5 linked regions of the Homo sapiens genome follow. The protein of the gene in region 4 purifies or fractionates together with the protein of the main gene of each other region. This does not show direct contact. Each region holds a gene or a part of one and is shown on either strand. Other genes may lie near its edges.

Region 1 (6,822 bases), on a different chromosome or scaffold from region 4:
TAAGCAGGACACGGTAAGGAAGGCCTGTATCCCAGGGTCTCTATTGCTGAGCAATTGGGAAATCTAGAAGAATAGGAGATAGAAACCTGATCAGGTCACTAGAGTTGTTTTGGTCTGACTTAGATTCAGTACCCTAATCTTCACCTCTTTCCAAGGTGGACTCTTACCTTTCTGCCAGGGCCCCCCATGGTCATGCAATATGAGACTTTCCCTTAGATCCCTCCCACAGCTCTAGTGCTACCCTTTCTCCCAGACACTCTGGCATGGAACTTACCTCGGGGTTGTGAAGGACCTGGGCAAAGTTTTCATATGAGTAGGTGCCACTCTGTAGGATGAGGTCTCCCCCAGGCTCTAAACTTTGCCCACTCAAGATTAGTAGTTTATAAGCTGATGAGCTGCTAAGAAGATGATGAACCTGGAATGGAAGAAGGGGAGTGGTCACAGATATAGGAAATCCAGGGAAAGGCAATGAATGGCCCCTCAGTACCTCAAGAACATGCTCCCAACTTATGTCCCTCATAACACCTCCAGAGTGGGCTGGAGACAATACGTCAGCTTAGATGGCAGAGAGAGGAATTCTTGGCCTAATAGTGGTAGCACTGGCAAGGGTGGGTATAGCACTTGCACCAGGCCTGTTTGGCAAGGCACAGGCCCTGGCCTTACCTCAGAGCTGATGCTGTCTGCACTGGGATTTACCAGGATGATGGTCTCTAGGATCTCACTCTGGTGGCAAAGGGTCCTCTGGCCTGAGGGAGAGATGTAGGAATTTATATTGAGAATAGGTATAGAAATTGTGGTGCAGGAGAGGAAAGAATGTGCTATCAGGAAATGGGGCTTAGACGAAAGAGAAGGTATCCTTAGGCCCTGCCACCTTGGATACTGCTGAGTAAGGTCTAGGAACTGGCTCATCCAGCCCTTCCCTTAGAGGGTTTCCACCTCCCCTCTCCCACACTGGCTGTCCTCTCCTTCCCTTCATCTACCACACCCTCTGCTGCCTGTGCCCCCATCCCTCTGCCTGGAACTATGGCCTCAGACTGCCCTATTGACAAGAAGCTTTTGTCCTTCTCGAGCACTAAGCTCCTGGTGCTGCCTGGGGATGGGGGGCTCAGCTGGAGAGAGGGCCCCTGGGATGATGACCCTCACTTCCCTTTCTCCTTCCTGGCTTGCCTCTGCCCTGGGCTTTCCTGCCCGCAGAGTGTCTAGAAATAAGGAAATAGGAGCTTCTGTGTGGTACAGACTCCCCACCCTTCTTGCCATCCAAGGCCAGAATTCCTGTTCCAGAAGACCCGGAGAAGCCTGTGCTATCTAAATTTTTGGGGTTTTATGATTCAAAGAATGGACATAGGACTATAACTTCATTTTCTGTCCTCTGGTTCCTCAGAGGCCAAGCCCGCACTAATACACATGCACACAATCATATTGTTCCTGCTCGGAAGTTTTCACAACACCCTCTCCAACCTGATCTTCATGTCCCAAAGTTTCAGAGAGGCCAGATTCACTACCCCACAACCTATTCATTGTGAACAGTTTCTTCTCTCATCTTTGCCCCGCTCCTAGGGGCCTCTACCACGGGCATGGGGAGTGAAAGGTTCTTGAACAAGAAACACATTAATAAGGAAGGAGAGATTCAGGGTGTTCCCCAGGCCATGGAGAAAGATAAGGCATCCCCAAATCCCCTATTTCCCTTCTCCAGCCTCACATGAAACACCAAACAATTCAGCAAAGAAAGAAAGTGGCAAATGAGACAGAAGATGCTGAAGAAGAATGCTGCCATCCCCTGCACCCGCCCTTCCTTGCCAAATCCCCTTTCCAATTGCAGTACATAGTGGCATTAACCTCACAGAGCATCCAACAGATGGCAGTGGGCTGTCTGGAGGATACTGGTGGGAGGGTCCATAATTTGTCCCTTAGACCCTCTTCTGTGACCCAGCTCTCTCTTCTTTCTGGTGCTTGGACAAGAGAAGCCTGGGGCCAGGGCCTTTGTTAAGAGGCAGAGCCATGGTGCCAGGATCAGGCAGATCTGGCAGCACAGGGCTGCAGATGCAGCTGTGGGGGAAATGAACGATGGTGTCAGAAGACCAAACCCCATACAGCGTGGGTTGGGCCAAAGGGGAATTCAAGGGTTCCCTTCTATTTACTTGAGAATTGAGGGAACATTTGAGATAAATTCAGAGGACAAGAGCCACCTCAGATGTAGGCAAGGGCAGGGCTTGGGGCAGGTGAGGGATATCAAGGTTCGGGAAGCTGCCAGCCTTAAGTCGTTCAGATTTAGAAAGACAAGAGCTCCCTCCACACAAATAAGGTCATAAATTTGAGGTAGGAGGGTCAGAAAGACAAATATCTATAGCACACACTGATTTGCTTTCTATCTACCCCTCCCTGCCCCCAACCATTCCTCACGGTCCCCATTTATCACCACAAGACTTCTATGATCCCAGTTCCTGTCCTGGCATAAGGTCCTGTTCCTCACTCTATCCCTGGGAGTGGTTCTGACTTGAAATTACATGGTTTATATCCTGTGCCTCTCTTTTTCAGGCCTGGGAGAAAGCCGTTTCTTCTGCTCCCCTGGCTCTCTCACTGAAGGGAACTGACTCGTTTTTTCCTTTTTCTTTAGAGAGGACCATCTTGTGAGGCAGGGACACACAGTGCTCAGCCAGTGCTGGAGTTGCGGGGGGGGGTGGGCTGCGGTGCAGAGGCTGAGCAGGCAGGAGGGCAGGTGTCTCCGCAGTGAGGCAGAAGGGGAGGGGGACCGTTTGGGCAGCTGCAGTTTGCCGCAGTGTGTGAGTGTGCGCGCTGAGCTCCGGCTCCAGCTCCGCCCCCACCCCCCACCCCAGCATGACAAGTCATTTTCTTGGCTGCTTCTGCATGGGGGGTGGGGATGGGGGGATGCAGAGAGAGAGAAGAAACTGGCTCCTCTGTTCAAGAGCCCCCATCTTGGGAAGAGAAGCAGAGATGAGGTGGGGGTAGGGCTGAGACTGGGAACCTGTGGGGTTGACACGACTGGAAATGCAGGGCAGCCGCTGGGGAGGGAGTTCTCCGTCTCCAGAGTGGCCTCGGCAGGGCCAGAAAGGGGGGTTTAGAGTCCCATTCTAAAGCTAGCCGCAGGGAATAGGGTGGGGGAGCCCACTGCAAACCGGTTGGTCTGTAAGGAGGCGCGTGCCACGTCTTAGTGACCCTTTCCTCCCTTCTTTTCCATAGTGTCCCCCACCTTCCCTTACTTGGCAAAAACTCACTGCCCTGCTCACCCCCAGCATAGGAGCAGCTGAGCAATCCAGCAGCTGACACCCAGGGGCCCTCCTATTAGGCACATTCCCATAACATCCCCCTTTCTCTCAGATTCTTCTGCCTCTGACCAGAAACATAGCCCCCAAACTCCTCCAGCATCCTGGGCTGTCAGGCAGAGCCAGTGGCACCACCCTCTGCTGCTGTCCCAGGCTGATTTCTCCCATCCCCGCCCAGCTGGAGAGGTGGACTGTCACAGCCCCTGGTGGCCTCTGGTTCTGGGTCCAGGCTGGGCCCACAGCCAGTAACGTTCATCTTCTCTCTCCATTTCCCCATCCTGCCTACTGCCACTGGGCTAGTTCTAGATGTGCCAGATTAGGTACCAGCACCCTTTCCATGACCCCCATCCCACCTCCCTATCACAGTGTACCCCCACATGCCAAGCCCTTTGGTTCGGTTCTTACCCTGGGGTGTAGGAGGAAGCCTCTCATGGAGGCGGCAGCTCCGGCCTCAGCCGGCAGCTTCAGGGAAGAGTCTGCAGCACTTAGGGTGGGAGTGGGGCGGGCGGTGGGGGGGGGAGGGGGGTGCTTGATGAGGAGGGCGGCGCCAGGGCGGGGAAGAGGGGCTGGTCCGTGACGAGGCACTGGAGACTTAACTGTTTCTTTGCCTTCACGACGTCTGAGCTCCAGTGCTTTTGCTTGGCTCTGTGGGGCTGAGGGATTGTCTAGCAGCTCAAGGAGCCTCTGCAATGTCCTATGGCCCATAGGACCTTTCTCTCCCAACCCTGCTTAGTTAGGAAATATTCTTTTGGCATCAGCCAAAAGACCAAAGCCCCATGCTAGGGCACAGAGCGAGGCTATAGGAGGCATGGGCTGCGTGGGCTCTCCCCCTTCTCTTAGAAACCATCTGCTGCCTCTCTCCTCAGATGGATCCAGGGAGTGACCTTCAGTCCCTGGAGGAGCAGGAGACAAAGGCTGGGGGCCCAAAAGCATGGGGTAGGTGTGGGGAACTGCTTAAGACAAAGGTTGGGGATGCAGAGATGTGCTGCCTTCTTCTGAACCTCAGCACTACAGAAACCAAGGAGGGCAGAAATAAGTCTTATTTTAGGGTTAGAGGGTAGTTTGAAATTCCGGAGTGGACACATGGTCCCTAGCCTGTTGGGGTGGGGCACAGGGACCCTGAGAGCTACATGAAGTTTCATGGGAATGCAGCATAACACAGTAACCACACAGGCACTGATTCTTGGGATTCTTGAGTCATTGGATATGAAGAGACAAGTCCCTGAAGGGACAGGGAGCTTTCTGCCTTACAGTGAAGGAGTTAACAAGGACCAAGAAGGATCACCAGGGCCTCCGGCCCAAGCAAGGTTGTAGGCCAATTATTAAATGTAACAGAAGTACTCTTTAGATTAAAAAAACCCTATAATGACTTTGTAGGGTGATTGGGTTCTTGCTCTCTCCTTGTCTCTTTGCTGTTTCTATATTATATTATTTGGATCTTTCTAATGTTGATCCTGTTTCCCTTAGTCTCTACCTCCATCTCAGATTTAGTAAAGCGCTCTAGGACTCAAAGGAAGAATCTGGAGAGTGGTAGCACTTCCTTCCAACCCGAGGATGCTCATGCTCTTACATAGTCCTTCCCTGCCCTCTTCCCATCCACCCTCCCCAGTTTGGCCAGCTCCTAAGGCCTTCCTCACAATCACAGCCACCCACTCACACCCAAACACTAGCCCCACCCTTGCCCCAGGCTGCCAAGAGTTACTTTTGAAGGTCAGAGAAGCCAAAATAGTCTGTGCTCTCAGCATCCCCCATCCCCCCTTAATTGCAGCCAGAGGAGAGGAGGAGCTGAGTCACTAGTACTCTTGGGGGTTGAGGGGACAAAAGGGGAGCAATCCTTGCTTAGATCCGGGGATGCAAATCTGCGACAATGGCAACAACCCCGTTTGGGTAGAAGCGGCCATCTGCAGAGATACACAGGGAAAACCAGGCTGAGTTCTGAGCATCACAAAAGGGAAATACCCCTCTTCTGCAACTTCATCGTTCTTATTTCCTCCCACCTCAAGCCTTCTATCTCCTCCCTGCTTTCTAGGGCTTTCTGGAGTGTGTTAGGAGGGAAACTTAAGTAGACATTTAGTTTACGAACAAAATAACATTTCCCAGACCAATACAGAGCCCACCCATATTCTCAGCTGCCACCCCCAAGGGCCACACCCTGGGCATGGTGCCAACTCACAGTGGAGTTTTCCTTCAGCCTTCACCCTCTGAACAGCTACCCACCACAACCAACTCTCCACCTGCTGTATTCCTAGGCTCTGCTGCAATGAAATGGTGAGATGCCAAAGAAGAAAGAGAGGCTTGAGCTGAGCTACAAAGTAAGATATGAAACCCTGGATTTGAGACTTGATCCACCATTTTACTAATCATGCTGCTAAACAAGAGACTTAACCTCTCTCAGAGCCTACTTCATAAACTATGAAATGAGTATAATATTAGTACCATCCTCCGATAATGCTGTGAGGTTTGAATTGTATAAAAGATGAAAAAAAAGCTTCTTCATTCCTAGACTTCCAAATCTGCAATGTACAAATGCCACTGGAAGTCTTTCTCCCTTTTGTGGAAGATTTCTGAGAGGTCATCTAGGTGATCAAGGAAATCATAAATCAGGATCTCAGACCAGATCAACTCTGGAGTACTCTTAGCTCCCAGGTAAACCCAGAACTAAAGATGCCTGCAGTATGAGATTTGAAGTCCTATTCATGTCCTTGCTTTCCCATTTCAGACAGCAATGCAGACCCCGGTTCCAGGGGTTAATGAGCTGCTGTATTAATTCAGGGTAACTGTTGTATTGGTAGAAGTAATAGAGCTATCACTTCCTAAGTCCGTCAGTGGAAATGGAGAGTCAGACCGAAGGCCTCCAGACTGGTCCCTCAGCCTGTATTTTTATTTATTTATTTATTGAGATGGAGTCTAGCTCTGTCGCCCAGGCTGGACTGCAATGTCATGATCTCAGCTCACTGCAACCTCTGTCTCCTGGGTTCAAGCAATTCTCCTGCCTCCCGAGTAGCTGGGATTACAGGTGTGCACCACCACCCTCGGCTAATTTTTGTATTTTTAGTAGAAGAGGGTTTCAACATGTTGTCCAGGCTGGTCTCAAACTCCTAACCTCAAGTGATCCACCCACCTCGGCCTCCCAAAGTGCTGGGATTACAGGCATAAGCCACCATGCCCGGCCCTGTGTTTTTTAGAGTCTTAGAATATTAGTTATGAATTATAAGCCCCCTTCTATTTCCTATAGGTATCCAATAGTAAAAGAATCAGAGAGTTATTGAAACTCAGTTTTCCACTGTCCTAATTGTTTCTGAATTTGTATTAGAATGCTCGGAAGATCCAGATTTTTTGTAGGGGTTAGAAAGTCACCACTGGAGAGACTACCTGGTGCAAAAATCACCTTTGAAAGCTTTTACCAGACTTGACCACTAGAAGGAGCTGGGCCACTGACTCTTTATCAGAGGGTCCCTTCTTTTCTGTGTGTGGGTATGTCAATGTGGAGGGGGCAGTGCCTAGGAATAAGTGCACTCTCCTTGTCACTGTAGGATACATT
Region 2 (6,306 bases), on a different chromosome or scaffold from region 4:
TAAAGATGGGATCTTGCTATGTTACCCAGGCTGGTCTCAAACTTCTGGCCTCAAGTGATCCTCCACTCTCTACCTCCCAAAGTGCTGGGATTACCGGTGTGAGCCACCATGCCTAGCTTGCATTATGTTTATATTAGAAGAAAATAAATCCAGTGTTTCCAAATCTGTAGAAGTTGGTTAAGGGGCCAGGCCCCCCTTGTGCCTTACAGCCTCTCATCCCACCCTGCCAAGGGGTCAACACTCACTTTCAGTGACTTCTTGAGCTTCTCCACAATTTGGTTCTGGATCGAGGGGTCACAGAGGATGTAGTCAGGGGCCACGCAGGTCTGGCCACTGTTCATGAATTTCCCCCAGGCGATGCGTCTGTGAGAATCCCAGACTGGACTAAATCCAAAAGGTTCCCCAGGAGTTGCATCTCGTTTTGCAGACCCCTGAGCTCTCTGGTCAGCAGAAGCCATCGGCTGTGACCTTGCCACCAGTGAGTCCTCCCAAGCGGTCTGCTCACTTCTAGACACTGGACCGAGCAGACCCAATGGCCCTGATCATGTTCACCGGCGACTGGTGGGGAATTTCTAGAGGACGTCTGTTGAGGGCAACCTCCGTGCTCCCTGATCACGCCCTTGTCCTGCACAGCCAGGTGTCACTGCTACTCGGGCCCCCCTACATCTCTGGGGCCACAGATGTGGGATATGGAGGTGGTCAGAGCCCTGGCTAGGGTCAGGAGGTGCAGATACGGGTTCTGCCCCAGACCCCGAGCAGCGGTGGCCCTTCTCCCCTCTGGGCCTGCTCTCCAGAACTCAGATTGCCCTGCCCCATCAGAGGGCTGAACCCAGTACAGTTCCTTGTGTCCTGAACGTCCCACAGCTGCTTTTTCTGCAGCCTCTGCTTGGAGTACCACTTCCCCAGTGATGCGCACTCAGCAAACAGAGCTCAGCCTAGACCTCTCCCCCTCCAGGAAGCCTTCTGGGACTCCCCACACGTCTTCTGTGCATGTGGTCCCCACCCCTACCCCCATGTAAGTTTCTGCAAGGACCACTGCTCCATGAGGCAGGGGGTGTCTGTGTTACTCAGAGTGGACCCACAGCATGAGGTGCAGTCATGTGTGCTTGGAAAGCAGAGTAAGGACTGCTGCAGCCAGCAGGCCCGTGCCTCTCACCGGCAGGCCACGTCCAGGTCACAGTTCTTGTCCACGTAGCAGGGACTCTTCCCTCCCAGCTCCAGCGTGACAGGGGTCAGGTGCTTGGCAGCAGCCGTCATGATGATCTTCCCCACCCCCGTGCTGCCCGTGTACAGGATATGGTCGAACCTCTCCTTGAGCAGCTCCGTGGTCTCAGGGACACCCCCATTGATTACTGGGTACAGATCCTTCCATGCAAGGAGAGAGGGGAGGCTCAGCAAAGACCAAGCCCCTCCTCGCTCTTGCAAGTGTGGGTGAGTTGCAGTGGCCAAGACCAGCAGCCCCGAAGCTCAGCACCCCACCTTGGGCGGGGGGTAGCAGTAACTGGCAGTAGACCGCCTTTCCTGGCCCAGGGGCTCTGTTCACCCCAATGAGAGAGGGCAGCTGCTAAGAACAATCCTCAGCCCCACCAGTAGCTTGGCCCCTTGCTGCAAGAATTCACTATTTCTCACCCCCCAAAGACCTGGCCCTAGCTCAGTTATGAGGCCATGGAGTTACGAGGCCCTGGAGGGCAACTCACCTTGTCCAGGTACTGGGGGATGATGGTAGCCAGCAGGCTCGCCATGTTCTCACTCAGCTCCGAGGGCTTGAGGACCACTGAGTTCCCTGCAGAGCACACCGAGCCAGGCCTATGCCCAGGGTACTTCACCAGAGGCTCTGCCCTCCCAAGGACCACACCTGAAGCCTCCCCTCCATTGTGTGTCCTCGGGACAGTGGATGGAAGAGTTGTTAGCAAACAAGCACATGTCACGGGGCACACCCAGGAGCACGCACGGGCACATGACAGAGGGACACACACGGGCACACGCTGGCCAGAGCTGCACCACCTGGCCCTCTGAGTTGCTGAGATGTTGGAGGAAAAGCAGAAAGGGGAGAGAGGCTCTGGGGGCCCGGTTGGTAGAACAGCGCTGGCCCATTCTAGGAAGGAAGCCCTGATGCATATTAGGTGACAGAAGCTCCAGCCCCCCAACAGGGGTGGGGGAAGGCAGGCCCTCTCTGTATCACCAGGTGTGGACACCTGAGCCTGACTGGACCTCAGGCACCAAGAGGCCTGGCTAAACAGCTTGGTCCCCACAGCCTCCTGTGACAGACCCAGCAAACCCTTATCTGACCCCAGGACTCTTAACACAGGCCTGAGCCCATCCTGGCTTGGCTCCACGCTGGGGGACGGTGCTCCCCCAGCTTCCCTTCCCACAGGGCCATGCACCTGCAGCGATGGCGCCCACCATGGGCTGGATGGTGAGGTTGAAGGGGTAGTTCCAGGTGCCAATGACGAGGACCACGCCCAGTGGCTCCGAGTGGATGTAGAGCTCGTCCTGCTGAGTCTGGGGCGTCTTCTCCACGGGCTCATCCGCGGCCCACTCAGGGAGCTTCTGGATCATGTACTCGATCTCCTCTAGGACGTACACCACCTCCTCATAGTAGGCGTTCCATTCATTCTGCAGCGACAGAGCCGGAGTGAGCTTCCAGGGCCAGGGCCCGCCTGCAGCTGGGGCGAGTGGGGAGCCCCACTGCTCAGCTGCCAGGGTGATGGGGGTCACTCACCCAGCCCAGGGTGGGGGCAGCCGCAGAAGGCTCCCAGGGGAAGCAGAGCCAGGATTAGCCGTTGGACCTGTGGGTCTGAGAGGACCCCTTTCTGCCAGAGGGGGGCCCAGGTAGGTTTGCGGCCCCAGGGGAGAGAGCCGGTGAAGGGACCAGGCATGGGCAACGGAATGGATCCAGGTAGGGGGAATAGAGCCGGGCAGGGGAGAGTAGATTCAGGCAGTGGGAATGGATCCGGGGAGGGGGGGATGGATCCGGGGAGGGGGGATAGATTCGGGCACTGGGAGCTGGATCCGGGCAGGGTGGAGGGAGCCAGGCCCTTTAGTTGTCTGGAGGGGGATGCAGGACCAAGGGCTGCTGGGCGCTCAGGGCCTCCTGTGGGGAGCAGGGGTGAGAAGAGGAGATGCAGACGGCGGAAAACGCGTCTCTTTTATAAACTTGGGCTGTGAAGAGCAACACAGAAGCTGTAAAGTCAACAGAATGGGTTTCCTTGTTGTTTCTGGTTTAAGATGAGAAGTCCTGAGCCATTTCTTGAAAAGTGCAGTAGCAGGCCCGGCGCTGTGGCTCATGCCTGTAATCCCAGCACTCTGAGAGGCCGAGAACTCCTCCTGAGGAACTCCTGAGGGCAGGAGTTCAAGACCAGCCTGTCCAACATGGCGAAACCCTGTCTCTACTAAAAATACAAAATTAGCCGGGCATGGTGGTACACGCCTGTTGTCCCAGCTACTGGGGAGGCTGAGGCAGGAGAATTGCCTGAACCCGGGAGGCGGAGGTTGCAGTGAGCCGAGATCGCGCCATTACACTCCAGCCTGGGCGACAGAGCGAGACTCTGTCTCAAATAAATAAATAAAATAAAATAAAAATAAAAGTGCAGGAGCAAAGAGGGTAGTCGGTGGGAGGATGGGCTCCGGAGCGCTGGACCCCAGGCAGCATGTGGGGACAGCAGGGGGCTGCGAATGCAGAGGTGTCTGGTCTTGCTCAGGGTGAGGGACGGAACAGCCCCTGTGAGAACTGGGAGGGAGGGGAGAGCCCCCCATGCCCTCCGGGGTGCCAAGCTGCTCTGGTTCCTGGTGTGGAGAACCAAGTGGTCCTGCGTGGGGCTGAGGAATGGGGAGGACCAGAAGTTCAGGGTGTCGGGGCAGCAGGAAGTTGAAATGGGGGACGCTGCGGGCGGGACGCGGAGGCCGGGCCAGGAGGAAAAGGCCAGAGGGCGGAAGAGGCGGCGGGGGCGCGCGGGGCGCGGCGGAGGGGAGGGCGGTGCGCCCAGTCTCCGCGACCGAGGGGCCAGGTGGCCCCAAGTCCTTCCTGAACCTCTCTGGGTCGCACTCTCCCCAGCCCCTCCCCCCACGCCCCATCGCATGGCCCCGACACTGGCAGAAGGCGGCCGCCCAGCCTGAGCACCTTGTGCAGGTCTGCGGCCAGCGCGCCCACCAGCTCCTGCTCCTGCTCCTGGATCAGGCGCTGCAGCGCCTCCAGCTGCTGGATCCGGAACTGCAGCGGACGGGTCCTGCCCGAGCTGAAGGCGGCGCGGGCGCGCTTCACGGCCTCGCTGATCTTGCTCATGGCGCCTGGGGACAGAGAGCACCTGCAGCTGGCTGAGGGGCACGAGCGCGCCCTGCCTCCCACCCTGCCTGAATTCTATAGGAAGGGACTTCCCTGGGCTCGGCCTTGGGGAAAATGGCCTTTCCGCTGGAAGGTCCACTTTCTGCCTCGCCTCCTCTCCCGCCCCTCACTCAGACGCCTGGGCCCTGGCTGCCTTGCTAGCCCCTGAGAAGGTGACACCCGCCGCAACCCGAGTCCTAAGCCGAACTGCTGCTGGGGGCTCTTGGCAGCGTGCTCGCGGCAGGGCCTTTCCCGGCCTTTTCCGCTCCCTTACTTGCTTGCAAAGCTGATGGCACAATCCCAGACCAACACCCCCAGAGCTCTGCACACGCAGTCAGCCACTCTCCAGATCAGATTGGAGGGGCGCAGTCCGCGATTCCACACCCAAGCCGATAAAGAAAAACCCAGCACCACCCTCCTGGCTAAGCCATTGTTCTAAAAAGCGCTGGTTTCTTGGCAGAGCTGAACCAGGCTTGGTGTGTAAACCACGCGTGCCACACCTGGGAGACGCACGCCCATGCCCGCCAAGGATTCAGAGAGCTGCAGATTTCCACAAAGAGGTGTGGAGGCGATTCCTGCTACCAATACACGAAAGTATAGTGGCAAATCGGGATGGCCCTGCTGGGGGCAATTTGGCAATATGTGGCAAAAGTTTTTCAAACATACTTCTCTGTGACGAAAAGGTCCTACAGCCTTTCCTAAACATTCACGAATAAGAAAGTCATCACTGTTTTCTATAACAGGGAAGTATTGTAAACATCCCAAAGATCCGAAAGAAAGGAGACAGTTTAAATGACTCCTGTCACACCCACGTAAGGGTTTACTGTGCAGTATTTAGGGATTAGGTGGAGCAGGCTATTCAGCATGTTTGTAGGGGCTCTCTCTGCACCAGGGGTGTCTCAGGCACTGGGGATAAGAAAGAAAACAGGTTACAGGCCGGGCGCGGTGGCTCACGCCTATAATCCTAGCAAACACTTTGGGAGGCTGAGGTGGGCGGGTCACCTGAGGTCAGAAGTTCAAAACCAGCCTGGCCAACATGGTGAAACCCTGTCTCTACTAAAAATACAAAAATTATCTGGGAGTGGTGGCAGGCACCTGTAGTCCCAGCTACTTGGGAGGCTGAGGCAGGAGAATTGCTTGAACCAAGCTGAGAGGAGGAGGTTGCAGTGGGCCGAGATTGGGCCATTGCACTCCAGCACTTTGACCGGGAGAATGGAGCCATAATCACAGAGTTCTCCTATTAGATTAGTGGTAGGAGGTAAGGCAAGGTTAGTGAGATTTGCTAGAAGTCAAGAGGCTGTCAGTGGAAGCGGTATTTGAAGGCCTCGGGTAAGTAATATAATTACTTTCAGCGAGACTCCATCTAAAAAAAGAAAAAGAAAGAAAGAAAGAAAGAAAAACAGAAAACAAGTTACAGAACAACAGATGTACCAGGCGTGTGCATGTGTGTGTGTGCGTGTGTGTGTGTGCGTGTGCGTGTGTGTGCATGTGTGTGTGTGCGTGTGTGTGCATGTGCGTGTGTGTGTGCGTGCGTGTGTGTGCATGTGCGTGTGTGTGCGCGCGTGTGCGTGTGTGTGTGGGCGTGCACGCTCTAACATGCAAGAAAGGACTAGAACGGTAGCCCCCGACACGATGAGACAACTGATGGGGGTGGAATTATTGATGATCTGTTTTCCTCTTATGCAATGTTTGACTTTTTGCAATGAGCTTGTATTTTTTAAATTTTGGTGCGTTTTAAGATAGGCACTACATGCTCATGAAACAAAATGTAAAATATAGCAAAGGGGCACAGAAAAAAGTCTGCCTCCCTCCTCCCTGCTCCATCAGCTGTCAGGTGCTGCCCCACAGAGGGGCCACTGTTACCAGTTCCTTACTCCCCTTCCTGAGATACTCAGCCCACTTGCAGACCCGGCATAACTTTTAACATCAGCAGAAATAGGGTATTTCCATTTTTTTAAAAAACCCTATATATCATATGTAATATA
Region 3 (6,306 bases), on a different chromosome or scaffold from region 4:
TTTTCTTATTTTAAAAGTCAGAAGTGTATATAATTCATTACTTAGTTGTCTTTAACAAAAATCCCCTTAGTAATGTTGATGTTTGGGAGAATATTATAAATACCAAAATACTAAGAACTAATTTACATTAATTTTTAAATATTTATATTTTTTTCTCTGAGGGTGTCTTTATGTTTATAATATACATCCAGGTATAGGGGAAGAAAATAAAATCTATCTCTTTTGAGACAAGATTAACTCTTTTCCTATTTTAAGAGAAATAGTTCACAAAGAGCTCAAAATAACCCTTGCTTAGATTATTGATGAGAAAAACAAATGCTCTATCTTTGGTCTTGTCAGAGACTCTTACCTTCAGGATTTGCCGAAATTCCTTTTCCAGAAGTTCCTTCAGCTCTTTTTTACTCAATGTGTCAGTGTTTTTATCTTTTTTTGAATATTGCTTGAAAAGATTAATTATGGCAAAGATGTTTTCCAGGAGAGTAGACATCTTTTGGCAATAAATGTGAACCTAGAAAGAAGAAATGAAAATGCACTTTTTTATACATCTTTTTTTCTAGGTTATATTATTACAATCATTTTCCACATTTTAAACCTACATTTTCCTCTAAGTAATCCATCTTTAAGAATGGAAGATGGACATGAGAAACTTTTCTCTACCATCTACATAAAACAAATGAATAGAGTTTTCCTGACTTAAATAAAATTGCCCATTTTTTGGCCTTGTGCCCACTTACAGCTGGACTTAGTAGTCTCACAGACCTCAGTGTGCTCTAGGTAAGATCATCCCTCTTGCTGATCTTGCCATTGCTAGCAACAAGAATTTAGAAAGGCTGACTGGTTTTAAGCAGTAAAATTTACTTATACAAATTTACTGAAAATTACTTCCCCAAAAGCTAACTTAATAAATGATTAATTTGCTAAGACACAATTCTCTGAAAGCCAGTTAGCCATATGACAAGATACTCAATGAAAGTTCATTCAATTTTTTATTTGTTTTTTAAACATTTCATGAAGTTTATAATATTTCATTGTATAGGATGGATTTAATAGCTCTTCAATATTTAAAGAGAAAGGTTTTTCTGACTGGGTTTCATTTTGCCATTTAAGGAATGTTCAGTTTATCTCATTGGTGAAGAAATTAGTAAGCATGTCAATAAATCTAAGTGTGTATTATATAAAGAATTATAACTTTATTAGGACTTACAAAACCAGGTGAAACTAAAATACTGTAGAAAACAATGTGAAGGAGATTACTGTAGCAGTCACAACTAAAACATTTTTGGACCTTGGTTTGTTTGGTAAGAGGAATTAGATATTAATGAATTTTGCTGTGGTTAAGTGATATATGTATTTGGGTAAGTTTATGGGTATTTACTAAAATAATAGAATTTATAATTTCTAAACCATTAGAGATGAAAAAGGGGAATTAAGAAACTTTAATAATTCAACAGAAGCCAGGAAAGAAGAAAATAAGAAGCATAGAAAAAGAAGGGTAAACAGAAAGCATAAAATAAATTAATAGAATTACAAATAATTTTATTATTACTAATTACAATACATGTAAAATAGACCATATCTTGCCAGTTAAAATATAGATTGTAAAGATTGAATTTAAAAAATTACAGGTATATGCTTCTTACAAATGCATTTTAAAGTTTATGATTATTTTCAGCCAGTCTTATTTATGATGATATTGTATTCTCTGAACTTATCGTTACTTGCAACATATGCAAAATCTCTTTCTGAAGGATCTCACTCTTTGACCTTCTCTTGTACGCTGATGTCAATAATTCTTTAACCTCTCTATTTACTGCTTTATGTACTCACTTCCCTTTTTACCTTGGTTAGACATTATGTTTAATCTCCCCAAATGCCCCTTGGATACATCCACTTGTCCTACTTTTTCTTATACCCACTGGCCAAAGCTTCAACAACTTCTTCTTTCCTTTATCTCTGATGTCCTTGATTTTGATTCCTGAGAACTTGGAAGCCATTGGAAAAGAGTTTCCTCATTCTCCTAATATCTGATCTCCCAACCTACTACATTTCTATCCATATACCTTGCCTTCACTTTATTTAGGGTAATAAACAGTCTGTGCTCCTCCTGTCCTTTACTTTGGCACTGAGCCCCACTCTCTCTTGCCTACCCAAACACTTTGCTTTTGCAGTTGCCTACTTTCTCATATGCATCATTAATTCTTCTTTGTCTACTGGATCATTCCCTTCAATATATATTCATGCTGAAATATCTATCTAACACTTACCTTCCCATCTCCACCCCACCCTCAATCTCACATCTGCCTTTAGGTACCATCTGATTTATCTGTTCCCTTTTATAGCAAAATTCCTCAAAAGATATGCCTATACATTCTGTCTTTACTTCCTCATTCTTGTTTTCCTTTACTCAAGGTATTTTTCTTTCTAAAAAATGTATTAAAACTCTCACCAAGTAAAAAATATCCTTCATATTTCCAAATCCACATATCCATTTTTATTTTACATATTACTTGACATATCAGCAGCATTTGATGCAACTGGCTTCATCCTTCTTCAGAGACCTGGCACTCTCAAGTTTCTCCTCCAACCTCAATGGCCACTTTTTTCTTAGCCTCCTCGTTCAGCTCCTAATGTTGCTATGCCCTATGATTCACTCCTTAGCTTCTTTTCTTTATTATACTCCCTCGGGTCATCTCATCTAGTTCTATATAACTTTTTAAATAAGTTGGCAACTCACAAGTTTATACCCCCAGTCACTGACTGTCCCCTAAACTTGAGATGTGTATGTCTAAATGCCTATCCAGTATTTCTACTTGAGTCTTGTAGAGATCTTAAATCTATTATGTTCAAAACAGAAGTCTTGATTTTCAACTGCTTTACCCTAAAAATGTCGCACACCCGTTATCCTCATCAGTTATTCCTGTCTTCCTGATGGCTCAAGTCGTAAACCTGAAAATTAGTTGATTCTCCTTTTCTTACATCCAATATCTATTCCATCAACATGTTTTATTGATCCTACTTTCAAAATATCCCTAAAATTAGTCAGTTTTCCCTACTTCACTCTGTTTCCTTCTCTAGTAGTTTATTTTTATCACCACAGAAACATGCTGGAGTATCTTCCATCTTAAAACCCTTCCCTCGAACCATTATTCCACCCTCCCCCAACATTTCTCCTAACATCTTACTAGCCTAATTAACTGCTTCATTTCACAGGAGTCTTGGAGAAGTTTTCTCTGCTTTCTCTCTTAAAATGTTTACCACCCACTTTCTTTTTAACCTGCTTCTCTCAATTTTCTATCACCAAACTCTACTGAAACTGCTTTGTGTCAAATCATCTGTGATCTCCAAGTTGTTGAATACAGTGTCATTTCTCCATCATTACCTCATCATCATCATCTTACTTAATCTCTTGGTATGTGAAATAGAATTAACCATTCCTTTCTTAATGGAGTCTTTTTTTCTTGGATCTCATGACACCATATTCTTCTGATATTCCTCTTACCCATTGAATGCTGTTGTCTCTCAGTATTCTTTACTAACCTCTCTTCTACTCAATCTCAAAAGGTTGGAAATATCTGTGGCTGTGTCTTAGACCTTCTTTTTAAAAAAAATCTACACTCCTTTCTGAGGCAATGTCATTGGATCCCATCACTTCAGATACCATCTATCTGATGACTTCAAAATTGATACCTCTAGGCATAACCTTTTCTCAGAGCTTACATTCATTCATTCATTCCTTCATTTATTTAACAAGTATTGAACAGCTACTAAAGGGTTAGGCACTGTTTCATGCTTTGGAGATATAGTAGTGAACAAGATAGATGAGGTGCCTGCCTACTTTTGTGAAGACAATAAACAAACAATAAATTAATTCAACAATTAGATATTGATAAGTGATATGTACATAACTAAAATAAGAGTGCTATTATACAGAATATTTGGGGGTACTTTAAGGAAAGGAGGTTTTGTGGTAGAGGGGACATTTGAACTTAAAATGGAAAAATAAGAAGGAAGTAGCCTTGTTAATTAGAGAATTTTAGCACAAGGAACAGTGCAAAGATTCCAAGATGAAAATCAGCTTGTCATGTTAGAGATATAGAAAAAGACCAACTCAGTTAGAAAATTGTGGACAAAGCAGGAGTAATACAACATAAAGTCAGAGATACAGACGGGTCAGATAATGATCTTCTAAATAAGGTGACATTTGTGCATTTTATTTTAGGTGTGATGAGACTAGATGATATTTTTTGGTAAGAGAGTGATCTAATATGGTTTGATTTTTAAAGATTGCTTTGTGCAATTGTTTATTAGTTTCAGACTAACTCTGAATACAACTAGAAAATGTGTGTGTGTGTGTGTGTGTGTGTGTGTGTGTTTGAAGGTATCACAGAGCTATCAAGATTGTGACAATTTATTGGGGCTTACATTCAGATTTAGAGGGAAATATAGTATTTGGGGAATTAAAAGACAAAATTTTCTAAAACTGATGAAAGATATCAAGGTACAGGTTCAAAACGATATTATAAACTCCAAGCAGGAGATATAAAAGAAAACCAAAGCAAGACATATAATAATAAAACTGCTGAACATTTGAGGCAATGAGGAAATCCTAAGAGCAGACAGAGAAACACTTGTATTACCTTCAAAGGAGCGACAATAAGATTGATACTTGTCTTTTCAAAAGAAACAATGGAAGCTAAAAGACGATGAAATGTTATATTCATCTTTCTGAAGCAAAATAAGTTATATGTTAACAGTGAAAATATCCACCAAAAAGAAAACATGTAAAGATATTTTCAAGCAAAGAAAAACAGAGCTAATCACCAGAGACCTACTGTAAAGGAAATATTAAAGGATAATTCTAGTTGGAAGCACAGAGGAGCAAGAAAGAATAAGAACAATGGAAAGAGCATATGTGTGGAAAAATATAGCTAGATATTGATTGCATAAAATAATAATAGTAATCTTTCAGGATTTAAGATAAATAGAATTAAAATACATAACAATCCCAGATAAGGCAGTGAGAAAATGGAGTTAAGTATTGTAGGATACTTGTATTATTTGGGTAGGGGTTAAAGTATTTTTTTCTTAATAATATACCCTAACAAATCAAGGATGCATGCTATAATTTTTAGGGCAAGGATGCAGATAATAATAAAAGAGTGTATAATTAATAAGCTTTTGTATAAAGATAATTAACTGGTAAATATTAACTTAATCCAAAAAAGTCAAGAATAGAAAAAGAAATACAGAACAGGTGAGATAGTAGAAACCAAGTAGTAATATTGTAGAGATGTAAACCAAATAGTTCCATAATAACTCTGAATATAAATAGAGTAAATATGCTAATTAAGGGACAAGGCTGTCAGACTGGATTAAAAAAAACCAACTGTATTCTGCTTATAAGAGACACACATAAAATGTGATTAAAATGATTGTAAATGAAAGGGTGGAAGAAAGAGATACCATTCAAACACTAAAAGAAAGCTGTTATTATTATATTCATATCTGTCAAGCAGACTTTAAGGCAAAAAATATTGCTAGAAGGAAATTTTATAATAATAAAAGATCAATTCTCCAGGAAGCCTCAAAATACATAAATAAAAATCGACAGAAGTATAAGGAGGACCAGGCAATCTACAATCATAGTGGGGTATTTAAATACACTTCTCTCAGCAACTGATAGAAGAAGTAAAAAATATGTAAGAATGTAGAATATTTCTACAAAATTATTAATAAAACATCAACATACATTGAACACTACACCTAACAACTGCAGAATATCCATTCTTTTGAAATTGACCATATACTGGGCCATAAAGCAAGTTTCAATAAATTTTAAAGGGTTGAAATCATAGAGTTTGTTCTCTAACACAGTGGAATGAAGCAAGCATTAAATAATAGGAAGATAACTAGAAAAATCTTTAAGTGTTTGAAAATTAATGACTTCTAAATAATCAATGGGTCATTGAATAAATTACAATGCAAAATTAGAAAATATTTTGAACTAAATGAAAATGAGAAAAATATGAAATAGCATAACTTGTGGAATACATTAATTCCATGCCTAATAGATATTTATAGCCTATATATATATACACACACACATATATACATATATACACTCACATATATATGTATATAAACACATACATATATATATGAATGATATCTCTTTTTCCCATCCTTTCATTTTCAATCACTGTTATCATTTTTTATGTGTGAATCTTATAAGCAGCATACAGTTGTGTGTGTATATATATGTATATGAAAGACTGAAAAATTAATTACCTAAGCATATATTTCAAG
Region 4 (5,849 bases):
CTCACTATGATGTCCAGGCTTTTCTTGAAATTTAGAAAATCAGTCAATATACATCCTGAATTATCTTATGGCAACAACCCACTGAAGTAAGAAATAACGTCTTTTATGTGACTCATGTGCCCTTTTCATGGTTCACAGTCCTCACCAGCACTGTCTTATTCTTAATTGGAGGAGGCATCATTCATATCACAACTTGTGTTCTGGAAGTGCATTCTCATAGACTACAATGTGAATGGGGATCGTTGGATTTGTGTCATTTAAATATGTACACACACAGATGTCCTGGACATAATTACATAATATATAACATGATGTAATTATGTCCAGAATTTGCTTTAAAGTAAAGGAAGAAGATAAGTGGGTATGGATAATGATGAAAGAAGGTTGACCATGTGTAATTATTTAAGCTGTGCAATTATACATTGACTTTCATTATTCTCATTCTTTTGTTAAATATTTGAAAATGAAAATTCTCAAAAAAATGTTTTAAAGAAAAAATATTCTTATATATATATAAACACAAATGTGTGTATGTATAAATGGAGATATATGTGTGTATGCGTATGTATTTAAATAGAGCTGCAAACATATTGGGGGAAACATATAATGGTATTTAGGGTAGTAATACGACCTTTCCAATGGTAAGTTAGCCAGGAACTTTAAAAGTTTATACCACCTGGCCTATTAATTTCATGCCTTAGAATTTATCCTGTGAAAACATGTGTTGGACATTAAAAAAAAATTTGGCCCAAGTGCTCATAGTAGATCTAATAAATCAAAATAAAAACATGATGAATACATGATTCCTACTTACTAAGAGAAACATTAGAATGATATATTTGGGAGGTGGCCAATTTTTCTTTTTTTAATTCTTTTTTATTTTTTTTAGAATTTTAGAAAATATTGAATTTTAAAATTTTAGAAAATATTACCTTAATGGGGTGACTTTCAGTGAGACATCTGGCTCTAGTAATTATTAGCTGAGAGTAAAAGAGGGGATAAATAGCAACTTTTAGTCCTCACTATGGAGTCTTAGCTTCAATTCTGAAATTCTTGGACACTGTGAAGCCAGTATTATGTTAGGTGCTTCCTCCAACTTATTGAAACATTAAATGATATTGGGACCTGGATTTTTTTATTATTTTATTTCCTTATTACAAGTAAGGTAACTATGTCTTAGAAAGAAAGAATAATCTATCCAATATCACCTAGGTAGTTTACGGAACTGCAGATTTTGTACTATTGCTCTCTATTTCCAAAGCTTATAGTGTGATTGTTTTCCACTATGTTTCTACACAGAAACACTCATTTCAGACATCACAAGGGATGAGATTCTAAGAGAATTAATTATGTTTGTGAAACGTGGATCAGGGCATGCTGGAGTTTGTAGCAAACTATAGTTATCAGTGATTCTAGATGAGCAGGGCTAGTAAAGGCAAAGGATAAAAATCTGTCTCTCTAACCATGGTTTCTCCAAAAAAGGTTCAGGCTGATTTACCTAAGAGTCCATCTTTGTGACTGTTAAACAAAGACCTACATGTCCTGGTTTCATTAGTGAATTGGTTTTTTGTTCAGCAAATATTTTACAGCAGCTTTTACATCCTTATTTCTCAAGCTATAGAGTATAGGATTCAGCATGGGTGTCACTACCCCATAAAACAGAGAAATGAGCTTGTCTAATGCTTGCAATTTTTCTTCCCCAATCAGGTCTTGAGACTTCGGTTTCGCATACATAAAGAAGATGGTACCGTAAAATATGATCACCACAGTCAGGTGAGCTGAGCACGTGGAAAATGCCTTGCGTCTTCCTGTGGCTGAATTCATTTGCAAGATGGTGTAGAGGATGAACATATAGGAGAAAAAAATGACCATCAGTGGAAGAACCAGGAAGGCCATATTTGATATCACCATGGTGATAATATTGAGGGATATATCAGCACAGGCCAGCTTGAGGACAGCTAATATTTCACATGCGAAATGATTGATAATATTATTCCCACAGAAAGGCAGTCTCATGGCAAGTAATGTTTGCACAGCTGAATTTATTCCACCGGACAGCCAGGACACAGAAGCCATCAATACATACGCCACCTTGCTCAGGATGATGGGGTATCTCAGTGGGTTGCAGATGGCCACATAACGATCAAATGCCATCATGCCAAGAAGCAGACATTCTGTTGACCCCATTGCAAACCCAAAGAACATCTGCACTGCACATCCAGAGAAGGAAATGTTTCTTTTCTTTGAGATTAAGCTCACCAATGTTGAGGGAACAGAGGAGGATGTATAGCAGATATCCAGGAAAGAGAGGTTGCCCAGGAAGAAGTACATTGGTGTGTGAAAATGAGAATCAAAGATGCTGGCTATGATTAGAACACCATTGCCAATTAGAATCACTAGGTACATAACTAGAATGAGAGCAAAGTAAACAATCTCAATCTTTGGGTATCCAGAAAGACCCAGAAGAAGAAATTCTGACACAAGTGTCTGGTTAATCTCACCCATGTCATCTGCTTTCAGGAAATCAAAAGAAGATCTAACATGAAATGTATTTACTGCCAAGAAACAAACAGTACAAATTAACTGAACAATCATTCTTTTGACACATATTAGAAGGAGTGCTTGCTTGAAGTTCTGACATCCAGTTATCTTCAGTAATGTGTGTGACTAGAATACAATGAAATTGGGAATGATGGAAGCACCTATACCGCATCGCCAATATGTGAAGATCTACCCACGATCAGACACACATGCAGACGGAACCTTTCCTGCTGTTGAGGACATGTTCCTGAGTTGAGGACACTCTCCCGAGCTGAGGTTTCTAAAACCCCTGGCCAATCAACAACTCTAAGCTTAACATCTTCATTTCATCAACCCCAGCAAACAAGCAGTAAAGGGGGCAAAAGACTACTCAACAAAGACTGGAATTTTAATTCAGCAATTTATAAAGTGTTTAAAATTTCACAGCAACTTTGACATTTTTGTGTGTTTATATTTTTTTCTAGGCCTGATACTAATACCTTATAGTTAGTTTAATTGTGTATTTTACAGACACTTAATAATAATACATTGAATCACATACCCTGAAATTTGACAATTGTTTAAAGGCATAGTTAGTTGTTGATCTCATAGTATCTTGTTATGACTGTTCCTATGACAAGACCATTGCCCAGAACAGCTCCGCATGAATGTGATAGTCTTTGGAGAACATTATATAGTGTCTTTACATATTTTACTCTGTAGCTTAAGAGTCTGTCTTGATAATTTACTCATTTAAATCAACCAATAAAAACAGTAATAATGTTTAAATATTTCATATAAATATGTATACATGTGTATGTATACCACTTTACCATTTACAAATTATAATATTCTTTATATTAACCCCATTTTTCAACTATAAAATATGGAACTTGGCCAAGATTAACTAGGTAGTAAATAATAAAATGTAATGTAAAGCTAATATTTTCGACACAAAGTCTAGTTCTTGGCTTCACTAATTTTCATATACACGTAAAGCATCTAGGAATTTTTTTTTCTTTTTTGAGACAGAGTCTCACTCTGTCACCAGGCTGGAGTGCAGTGGCACGATCGGGGCTGACTGCAACCTCCACCTACAGGCGTGCACCACCATGCCCAGCTAACTTTTGTATTTTTAGTAGAGACGGGGTTTCACTATATTGGCCAGGATGGTCTCCATCTCTTGACATTGTGATCTGCCCACCTCAGCCTCCCAAAATGCTGGGATTATAGGCATGAGCCACCACACCCGGCAAACATCTGGGAAACCTAAAAACCTTCAGATTCTCTTTTAGTGTTCAGGCCAGTCCTGAGATTCTGCATTTCTTGCAGGTGCCCAGGTGACGCTTATGCCACTGGTCCCAAAATCACTTGAGTAGCAAGGCTTAGTCTATACTAAGTTGGCCAATTATCTAGATGTTTCTAATTCAAGCCAGTTTTTTTTGCCTTATTGTGTAGATTGGCAATAAGAACCTTGAAAATGTCAAGAGCATAATTCTTTGATGTTTTACGGAAACTCCAGATTGACACCATTTTTTAAAATACCCTTTAAAAATATTATTGAAACACATATTTTTAAAAAGCAGCATTTTTAAAGTGCCTGTCATTACAAAGTTCACAATTTAGGTAGGGATATAAGAAAAGAACATATCAAAATAATTTACAGTCACTTTCTATAGCTTACATGAAAATTACAGTTTTTCCCAGAAGGAAGAATTTTATGAGAAATAAATTAGGCCAAGGAGAACTCCGGAGTTTCAGTGTTCAGCTGAACCTGGGAGTATGGAAAAGAATTAGACAGGGTTAAAAGAGAAAAGGGATATCTCAAAAGTGAGAAGTTGGACCAAAGTTAGGAGTAAGCCGACTGGCAGCACAAGGGAGTTTCTGTGAAAGAGTGGTGGGAAACACATCTGAGAAAGAAAGCCTGACAGGTGCATATAGAAAGGCTCTAAAATCAGGCAGAAAAAGTGTCATTTCTTTTGGTGGAAAAGAGGTCTATCATTAGAAAGCACAGAGCATGGGGTAAGCACCTCGCCCATTAGACTTTAGCAGTTCTCTAAATTTGACCTCATAGAATATGGTGTTACAAGATTTTTTAGTAGAAATGTAACTCAGGGAATTAAAGCATTTAGATTAGCGGAGTTGTCACTAATTACAGAATAGGCATGATAATTGATCTTTCTATAATCACTACTAGATTTAATTTTGGTCAAAATCACAAATGTAGGTTTTGCATGGGCTAATAGCTTTGAGAATGTTAGCACATCCACTCTTCCCCACACTGTGACTGTTGGTCACATGATAGTCACTGGGAAGTTTTGTGTAGAGCAGATATTACTAGGAGTCAGAAATCCAACTCAACAGAATCTTTACTATAGGAAAAATTTAGTTAAGGATACACAATAGAAATATTTAAACTTTGAAGAGAAAGGCAAGGAAGAGAATATACAATCTCAATCTTAAAGACAAAAAAAAATGAGCCCACAATAGATTGTTAATTTTTATTATTCAGCTTTAAGAAGAGAGAGAAGGAGGGAAACGAAGCAGGGAGGAAAGAAAGAAGGGAAGATGGGAGGAAGGGTAAAAGGGAAGGGAGGGCAAAAGGAGGAAAGGAAGAGAGTAAAGGAAGGAGGGAAGGAGGGAGGGAAAGGGGAGGGAAGGGAAGGGAAGGAAGGGAAGAAGGGAAGGAAGGGAAGGAAGGGAATGAAGGGAAGGAAGGAAAAGAAGGAAAATCTCTGCATTTCATTTATTTAGACAACTTTTATTGTAGCTTCCTATGTGCCAAATTTTGTGCCAAGGTCACATGTCTAATAACAAGCAGAGGTCCAAAGTCCACTCTCTTCATATTACTATCCTGCCTGACAAGTGGCATTAAAATCTATATAGAAATCAAATGTCAAAAGCAGTGGATGGTTAGTGAGAACCACAGAAAAACTGAGGTCACAAAAACAAATTGAATGTACTCATTCAACAGTGCCCAGAGAAAGGAGCAATTATTTATACTACTTCTGACTCCTCAAATGGGGTACAGAAATGGCCATAGGAAACACTGGCTAAGGGACATGCGCACTCTGATTAGCCCTGTCACAAATGCAAAAGGAAGTGAACGGCAAAACAATTCAAATCCACTGTCTTCTGCTCCTGACGCTTTAAATTGGTTATCTTGTATATTGTGAGATAAGAGACTTAGGGAAAGAGCTTGTCTGTTTTGCTCATCCTTCCACACCTAAGTCTAACTCAGGGGCTGCACATAATACATGGGTTTGAAATAGGTGAAAGGTTACTTTCTGGACTCAAGCAATTTCCCTGTGCAGTATTTGTGGATTAAT
Region 5 (6,306 bases), on a different chromosome or scaffold from region 4:
AGCATGAATTGCGGTTTTTAAAGTTCCTCAAGTAATCAAGAACAAGCTTTGAATTGGTTAACTTTAAAGTGAGATGAAATGACCAAGCCAATTTCCTAAAGATACTTAAGTTTTAAAAAGGCAAGTTATTACATCAAAAACACCACCAAACATCTAGGTAGAAATGTATGGAGAGAAACCAAATCTGTGTTAGTTTCAAGGATTAAGTATTAAATCATATATATATTTATAGACAGGGTCTTACTCTGTCACCCAGGCTAGAGTGCGGTGGTGCCTTCACAGCCTCCAAACCTGGGCTCAAGCAATCCTCCTGCCTCAACCTCTAGGGTTACAGTAGTGCCACACTATGCCCAGCTAAATTATATATTTTTAAAAGAGTCTGTGTTTAAAAAAAAATTGAGTATAATTTAAATAAACTTACTTTATTCACTTAAGCAAATGTTTGGAAGACGGCAGACTATCTTAAAGGAAATATACAATAAAACAAACAAAAAAATTAGCTGGGTGTACTGGTACATGCCTGTGGTCCCAGCTACTCAAGAGGCTGAGGTGGAAGGATCACTAGAGCGAGGGAGGTGAAGGCTGCAGTGAGTCATGTTCACACCACTCCACTCCAGCCTGGGTGACACCACTGCACTCCAGCCTGGATGACAGAGACCCTGCCTCAAATTAAAAAAAAGTTTCTAAATAAAAATAACTAAGTAATTTATTAAATAAAATAGCAAATAAACTAGTAAGTTTAAAGCTAACCAGTTGTGCTAGTAATTGTACAAACAGTAGGTATGTACAATTCTCATTAGCCAGAGAAAGAAATCATACCAAACCCTTGGATGCAACCTTATTCCTAACACTAAGCTTTAAAAGAAATTTCTGTTGGGCATGGTGGCTTGGACCTATAATCCCAGCACTTTAGGAGGCCAAGACAGGAGGATTGCTTTAGTCCAGGAATTCGAGACCACATGGGGCAACAAATTCGAGACTAGCCAAGGCAACATAGTGAGACCTTGTCTCTACAAATAATAACAAAATAACTAGTTGGGTATGATGTTGTGCGCCTGTAATGCCAGCTCCTCAGGAGGCTGAAGTCAGAGAACTGCTTGAGACTGGGCAGTTGAGGCTGCAGTGAGCAGTGACTGCACCACTGCACTCCAGCCCCAGCAACACGATGAGACACCCGCCCTCATCCCAGTATCAGAGAAAAAAAAAGCAATTTCTTAGATGGAGCATTATTGAGGCAACAGAGTTGTAATAGAAAATATCTTCAACATTACCATTAACAGATACAAGGTTTCATAGTATCATTTTACTTTATTTTATTTTACTTTATTTTATTTTTTGAGACAGGGCCTCACTCTGTTGCCCATGCTGCAGTGCAGTGGCTCGATCTTGGCTCACTGCAATCTCTACCTCTTGGGATCAAGAGATCCTCGCGCCTCAGCCTCCCAGGTAGCTGGGACTACAGACGCGAGCCACCATGCCCAGCTAATTTTTGCATTTCTTATTGAGATGGGGTTTCACCACGTTGCCCAGGCTGGTCTCAAATGCCTGAGCTCAAGCAGTCCACCTGCCACGGCCTCCCAAAGCGTTAGGCGCCCAGCCTCATAGTCTTTCTTACAGTCAGTTCCTCAAGGAAAAGTCAAATACCTAACTCCTAATATAATCCAGGAAAACTAACTACACAGTAATTCTCTAAGGCTTTCAAGGACACCATGATTGTCTATATCTTCCTAAATTATAATCCTGGACTGTCCATATTAGATAAAGGACTTCAATCTGGTGGGCTTCTACCTATCTCTCCTATCTCTCTTTTGTCACCCTCCTCCCTATAACTGCACCTTAAACTCTTGTCATTCTACCCTATCAGGATTACTACGGCTATTAATCCCTCTGGCTGAATGCCACCTCACCCATCTCGGGACTAAATTAACTTCTATAACATTTTAAGATTCCGCAGCTGGGCACAGTGGCTCACACCTGTAATCCCAGCACTTTGGGAGGCTGAGGCCGGCGGATCACGAGGTCAGGAGATGGAGACCATCCTGGCTAACATGGTGAAACCCCGTCTCTACTAAAAATACAAAAAAAATAGCAGGGCTTCGTGGCGGGCGCCTGTAGTCCCAGCTACTCAGGAGGCTGAGGCAGGAGAAGGGCGTGAACCCGGGAGGCGGAGCTTGCAGTGAGTTGTGATAGTGCCACTGCACTCCAGCCAGAGCAACGGAGGGAGACTCTGTCTCAAAAAAAAAAAAAAAAAAAAAAGAAAAGAAGATTCCGCTTTACCTCTTGTGGAAAGCTTTTCCTGTCCCTGCAGTCTCTACCTACATGTGTCCACAGCACTTTTTTCTTTTTTTTTTTTTTGCGGCGGGGCCGGGGAGACAGGGCCTCCCTCTGTCGCCCAGTCTGGAGTGCAGCGGCACGATCACAACTCACTGCAGCCTCAGTCTCCTGGATTCAAGTGACCTTCCCACCTCATTCCCACCTCAGCCTCCCAAATAGCTTGGACTGTAAGTGCGTGCCACCATGCCAGACTAATTTTTTAATTTTTTTAGAGACAAGGTCTCCCTATGCTGGCCAGGCTGGTCTTGAATTCCTGGACTCAAGTGATCGTCCCGCCTCAGTCTCCCAAAGTGTTGAGATTACAGGCATGGGCCACGTGCCCACACCACAGCACTTTTATAATACCACCTCAGTGGCAGGCTAGCATGCTGCACTGTAATCACAAGTTTAATCTTCTCTCCACTTTCCTATAAAGGTCTTAAAAACAAGGACCACATATCACCGTATCACCAGCATCTAAGGACAGTGTGGCACGATACATCTGCAACGCTCAAAAAAAAAATGTGTGGGGCGAGGCACAGTGGCTCACGCCTGTAATCCCAGCATTTTGGGAGGATGAAGCAGGTGGATCACTTGAGGTCAGGAGTTCAAGACCAGCCTGGCCAACAGTGAAACCCCATCTCTTCCAAAAATACAAAAATTAGCCGGGCATGGTGGTGGGCGCCTGTAATCCCAGCTTCTTGGGAGGCTGAGGCAGGAGAATCGGTTGAACCTGGGAGGCGGAGGTTGCAGTGAGCCGAGATCACGCCATTGTACTCCAGCCTGGGCAACAAGAGCGAAACTCTGTCTCCAAAAAACTTGTGCAGGTATTTTAGCGTGATGAAAAGACACAATTTTAATATTCAGACTACAAATGGACTGAATGTCCATACTCCATGAATATTTTCTCAACCACGATTCTGAAAGAACTGGCAAACAATTTACCTTTAGCAAGAGCGTAGAGCACTCCTATTCTTGCTAGTGTAGGATGCACATAATTTAGATATTAAGACGAGGGCACCTAAGACTCTCCTTTGGAAAAAAAGTAATAAATTACACTTCCATTGAAAGGTGGTCCAAGAAAACACCTATAGGCAAAACCTGGAGCCACTATCCTCTCAACTTCAAAACATAATTCTGTTCATGTTGAATTGGTTTTAAAGATTCAAGTTTTATCATAGATAACTGAATGTTTTTGCATGTAATCATGCTAAAACTACCGATAAGCTACTATGGAGATGTTCTTAATAAACTAACTTAAAAATGACATGGTCAAGAAAATGGAAGATACAAGTAGTTCCAATCTGTATACATTTTTGGTATTTATAAAAATCATACAATACAATCCACATTTTTTTCTTCCTACAGTTTGCTTCATTTGACTGCCTAATAAAGACCTATACTTAGGGGCACTCTCCCTCTAACACTCATTTGCCTTATTTCATGTCTGAATGAATAAGACCAATTGCATCTTTCTCTCACTGATCTTAAGTTTTTCAGAAACTGCCTAAAGTCAGGGATCACCACTTTGAGATCCAGAACTTCTTACTCTTGTCATAAGATGGCTACTACAATAAGATAGATCAAAGAGCTGTCCTCAAACCAGGTTTCCTCCATTAGTGTATTTTTCCCCAGAACTAAAAAAATGTAAATAATCCTTCCCTACCGCCCCGCCATGACCACATTGTATGTGTGTTGGCAGCCAGCTACAGGTTCCATTTCCCTGGGCAGTACTGACTAAGTGGTTTTGAGTACAATTTCATAGCCAATTGTACCAAGTCCCTTCCAGGAAACATTTTAGGGGGCTTCTGTGGTCCCAACATATTTAGCTCCAAATAGGTGATGACTACCTTTTTTTTCCTGTCCCATTTGCAGTCAATCAAACCATCTAACACTTCAATTACCTCCCTTCTCCTTTTACACTTCATGCTACTTCTTTTTTTGCACTTGCCAGCTACAGTGATATGCATACAAGGTGTGTACATTTTGATATTTCCCAGTACTCTATTCTAAAATCTTTTATTCCTCCACAAGAGAACAGTGAGAGAGTAAGATGTGAAAATCAACAATATGCAATACGCAACCTGAAAATGGTTGGGATCCAGTAGCTAAACTTGCAGAATGGAACTTACTAATGAAACTATGCTTTTGCCAACAGCTTAAATAAACAATCTGTTTAAAAATTCTCTAAAGCACTTAAGACCATAAAAAGGAACCAGCCAAAGGTCAAATAAAACTTTTAATATTTGTGTTTAATTAGGCGTGTCTTGATTTTTCATTTAAAAAGATAACTCTCGAGTTATTTGAAGAAAAAGTCACTAAGGAAAAAAAACACTAACATGTCTCTAAACATAATGCTACATGAAACTCAAAGAAAAAGCATTTATCACGCACCTACCTAATAATTCTATACAGCGTTTCACTCACTGGAAAAGCTTGAAAATAGAAAACTTCCACTTTTTCAACTACAAAAGCAATTAAGTTTTAAATAAAAACTGTCTCCTGTCTATATATATTGCCAAATATAAAAATCACTATTAAAATATTAGCTCCTAAATGATAGGGTTTGAGGAAACCTTTTTCCACAACAGAATTCCGAACTGACTGAAAGACACAGTAGTTGGACTTGTGTTAATCCAAAGATTTCCTTTACTACTGATAAAACCACAGTGGAGGCATAATTTAGACCTAGGCCAAGTGGGCTTCCAAACACACTCCATAATTATTCTAACCCAGTCACAAGTAGCACTGGACAACTACTGTCCTCTGGAAATGGGGAGTCTAACTTTGGTAGTCACATGAAAAAGCAGGGCAAATTAAGTGCTTTCTGCAGGGAGAAGACTCCCAGAGAGAAAGCGAGGAAGGGGCTCTGCCATATTTCATCAGCGTTCCCTCTTACAAACTCATCAAAGCGAAGTGAGGAGGCAGGACAAAACGAACAAGTCAGACTATTTTAATGCATTTCCTAAAAACAGCAAGGGTCTGGCACCGGGGCTCATGCTTTTAATACCAACATTTTGGGAGGCCAAGGCGGGAGAACTGCTTGAGCCCAGGAGTTTGAGACCAGCCTGGGCAACACAGCAAGACCTCACCTATATTAAAAATTAATAATAATAATAATAATAATAAAGAAAAAAAGCAAGAAATCTTAATATGCCACAGACCAATTTACCTGGCTATAAGTGTAATTTTTATCTTAATCACACCTGTTAGTAAAATGGTCTCAAGCTGTGATTGCAGCCATGTAGACAAAGCCATGTGAGACTCAAATATTCGGATATTTTAAATATCTGTAAATTTTAAGAATATGAAAAAATACAAGTATTTCCATATCCTGGAAACCCAACAAGGTATTTAAGTTAGGACGTATGTAGAACTTGAGTTTAGGAGACAGGAATCAACCTCCACTTAAAACTATGCAGATCATGTTAGGGTCTATAAAAAGGAGACAGCTTGGTCACTGAGAAAATTGGCTGTGGATTTCACACCTGGCCCAAATCTCTGGTCATAATTACTTTTGTTAACTAAGATAAGTACCTACTCCGGAAGGCAAATTATCTTTCCACACCAGAAAGGTTTATAAACAAGCCGGGTGTGGTGGCTCACGCCTGTAATCCCGGCACTCTGGGAGGGCGAGGCGGGAGGATCGCTTGAGATCGGAGTTCAGCCCAGGAAACACAGTGAGACCCTGTCTCTACAAAAAATGCAAAAATTAGCCGGGCGTGGTGGCGTGCGCCTGTACCCCCAGCTACAGTTACTCGGAAGGCTCAGGTGGAAGAACAGTTGCAGCCCGGGACGCGGAGGCTGCAGTGAGCCCAGATCTCACCACCTGCACTGCAGTCTGGGCGACAGAACCAGACCCTGTCTCAAACAAGAAAAAAAGATTCATAAACAAGTATGGAATGCTTGAGAGAAACAAAATCCAAGTATTATTTGGTAATTTATATACAGTATTTGTAATGCCTGAGAATTTATTCTAAAGTGACAGCTTTG

Evidence for each region.
Region 1: the proteins of OR13C3 (region 4) and MAP1A purify together in Homo sapiens (affinity purification with mass spectrometry; one large-scale study listed by BioGRID and IntAct). This does not show direct contact.
Region 2: the proteins of OR13C3 (region 4) and ALDH3A1 purify together in Homo sapiens (affinity purification with mass spectrometry; one large-scale study listed by BioGRID and IntAct). This does not show direct contact.
Region 3: the proteins of OR13C3 (region 4) and FLG purify together in Homo sapiens (affinity purification with mass spectrometry; one large-scale study listed by BioGRID and IntAct). This does not show direct contact.
Region 5: the proteins of OR13C3 (region 4) and PUM2 purify together in Homo sapiens (affinity purification with mass spectrometry; one large-scale study listed by BioGRID and IntAct). This does not show direct contact.

Annotation. Positions count from the first base shown.
Region 1 is NC_000015.10:43,514,565-43,521,386, reverse strand, and holds the start of MAP1A (microtubule-associated protein 1A), read right to left. Parts: upstream 3,780-6,822; 5' UTR 3,687-3,779; intron 747-3,686; coding exon of another isoform or gene 664-746; intron 416-663; coding exon of another isoform or gene 275-415; intron 64-274; coding exon of another isoform or gene 1-63. UniProt on the Homo sapiens protein: Structural protein involved in the filamentous cross-bridging between microtubules and other skeletal elements.
Region 2 is NC_000017.11:19,740,848-19,747,153, forward strand, and holds part of ALDH3A1 (aldehyde dehydrogenase, dimeric NADP-preferring), read right to left. Parts: intron 4,766-6,306; exon of another isoform or gene 4,288-4,765; 5' UTR 4,283-4,287; coding exon 4,121-4,282; exon of another isoform or gene 2,723-4,120; intron 2,617-2,722; coding exon 2,385-2,616; coding exon of another isoform or gene 1,784-2,384; coding exon 1,698-1,783; intron 1,366-1,697; coding exon 1,157-1,365; intron 364-1,156; coding exon 246-363; intron 1-245. UniProt on the Homo sapiens protein: ALDHs play a major role in the detoxification of alcohol-derived acetaldehyde. They are involved in the metabolism of corticosteroids, biogenic amines, neurotransmitters, and lipid peroxidation.
Region 3 is NC_000001.11:152,314,970-152,321,275, forward strand, and holds part of FLG (filaggrin), read right to left. Parts: intron 509-6,306; 5' UTR 488-508; coding exon 350-487; intron 1-349.
Region 4 is NC_000009.12:104,534,219-104,540,067, forward strand, and holds OR13C3 (olfactory receptor 13C3), read right to left. Parts: upstream 2,639-5,849; 5' UTR 2,506-2,638; coding exon 1,552-2,505; 3' UTR 1,531-1,551; downstream 1-1,530. UniProt on the Homo sapiens protein: Odorant receptor.
Region 5 is NC_000002.12:20,342,749-20,349,054, forward strand, and holds part of PUM2 (pumilio homolog 2), read right to left. Parts: intron 1-6,306. UniProt on the Homo sapiens protein: Sequence-specific RNA-binding protein that acts as a post-transcriptional repressor by binding the 3'-UTR of mRNA targets.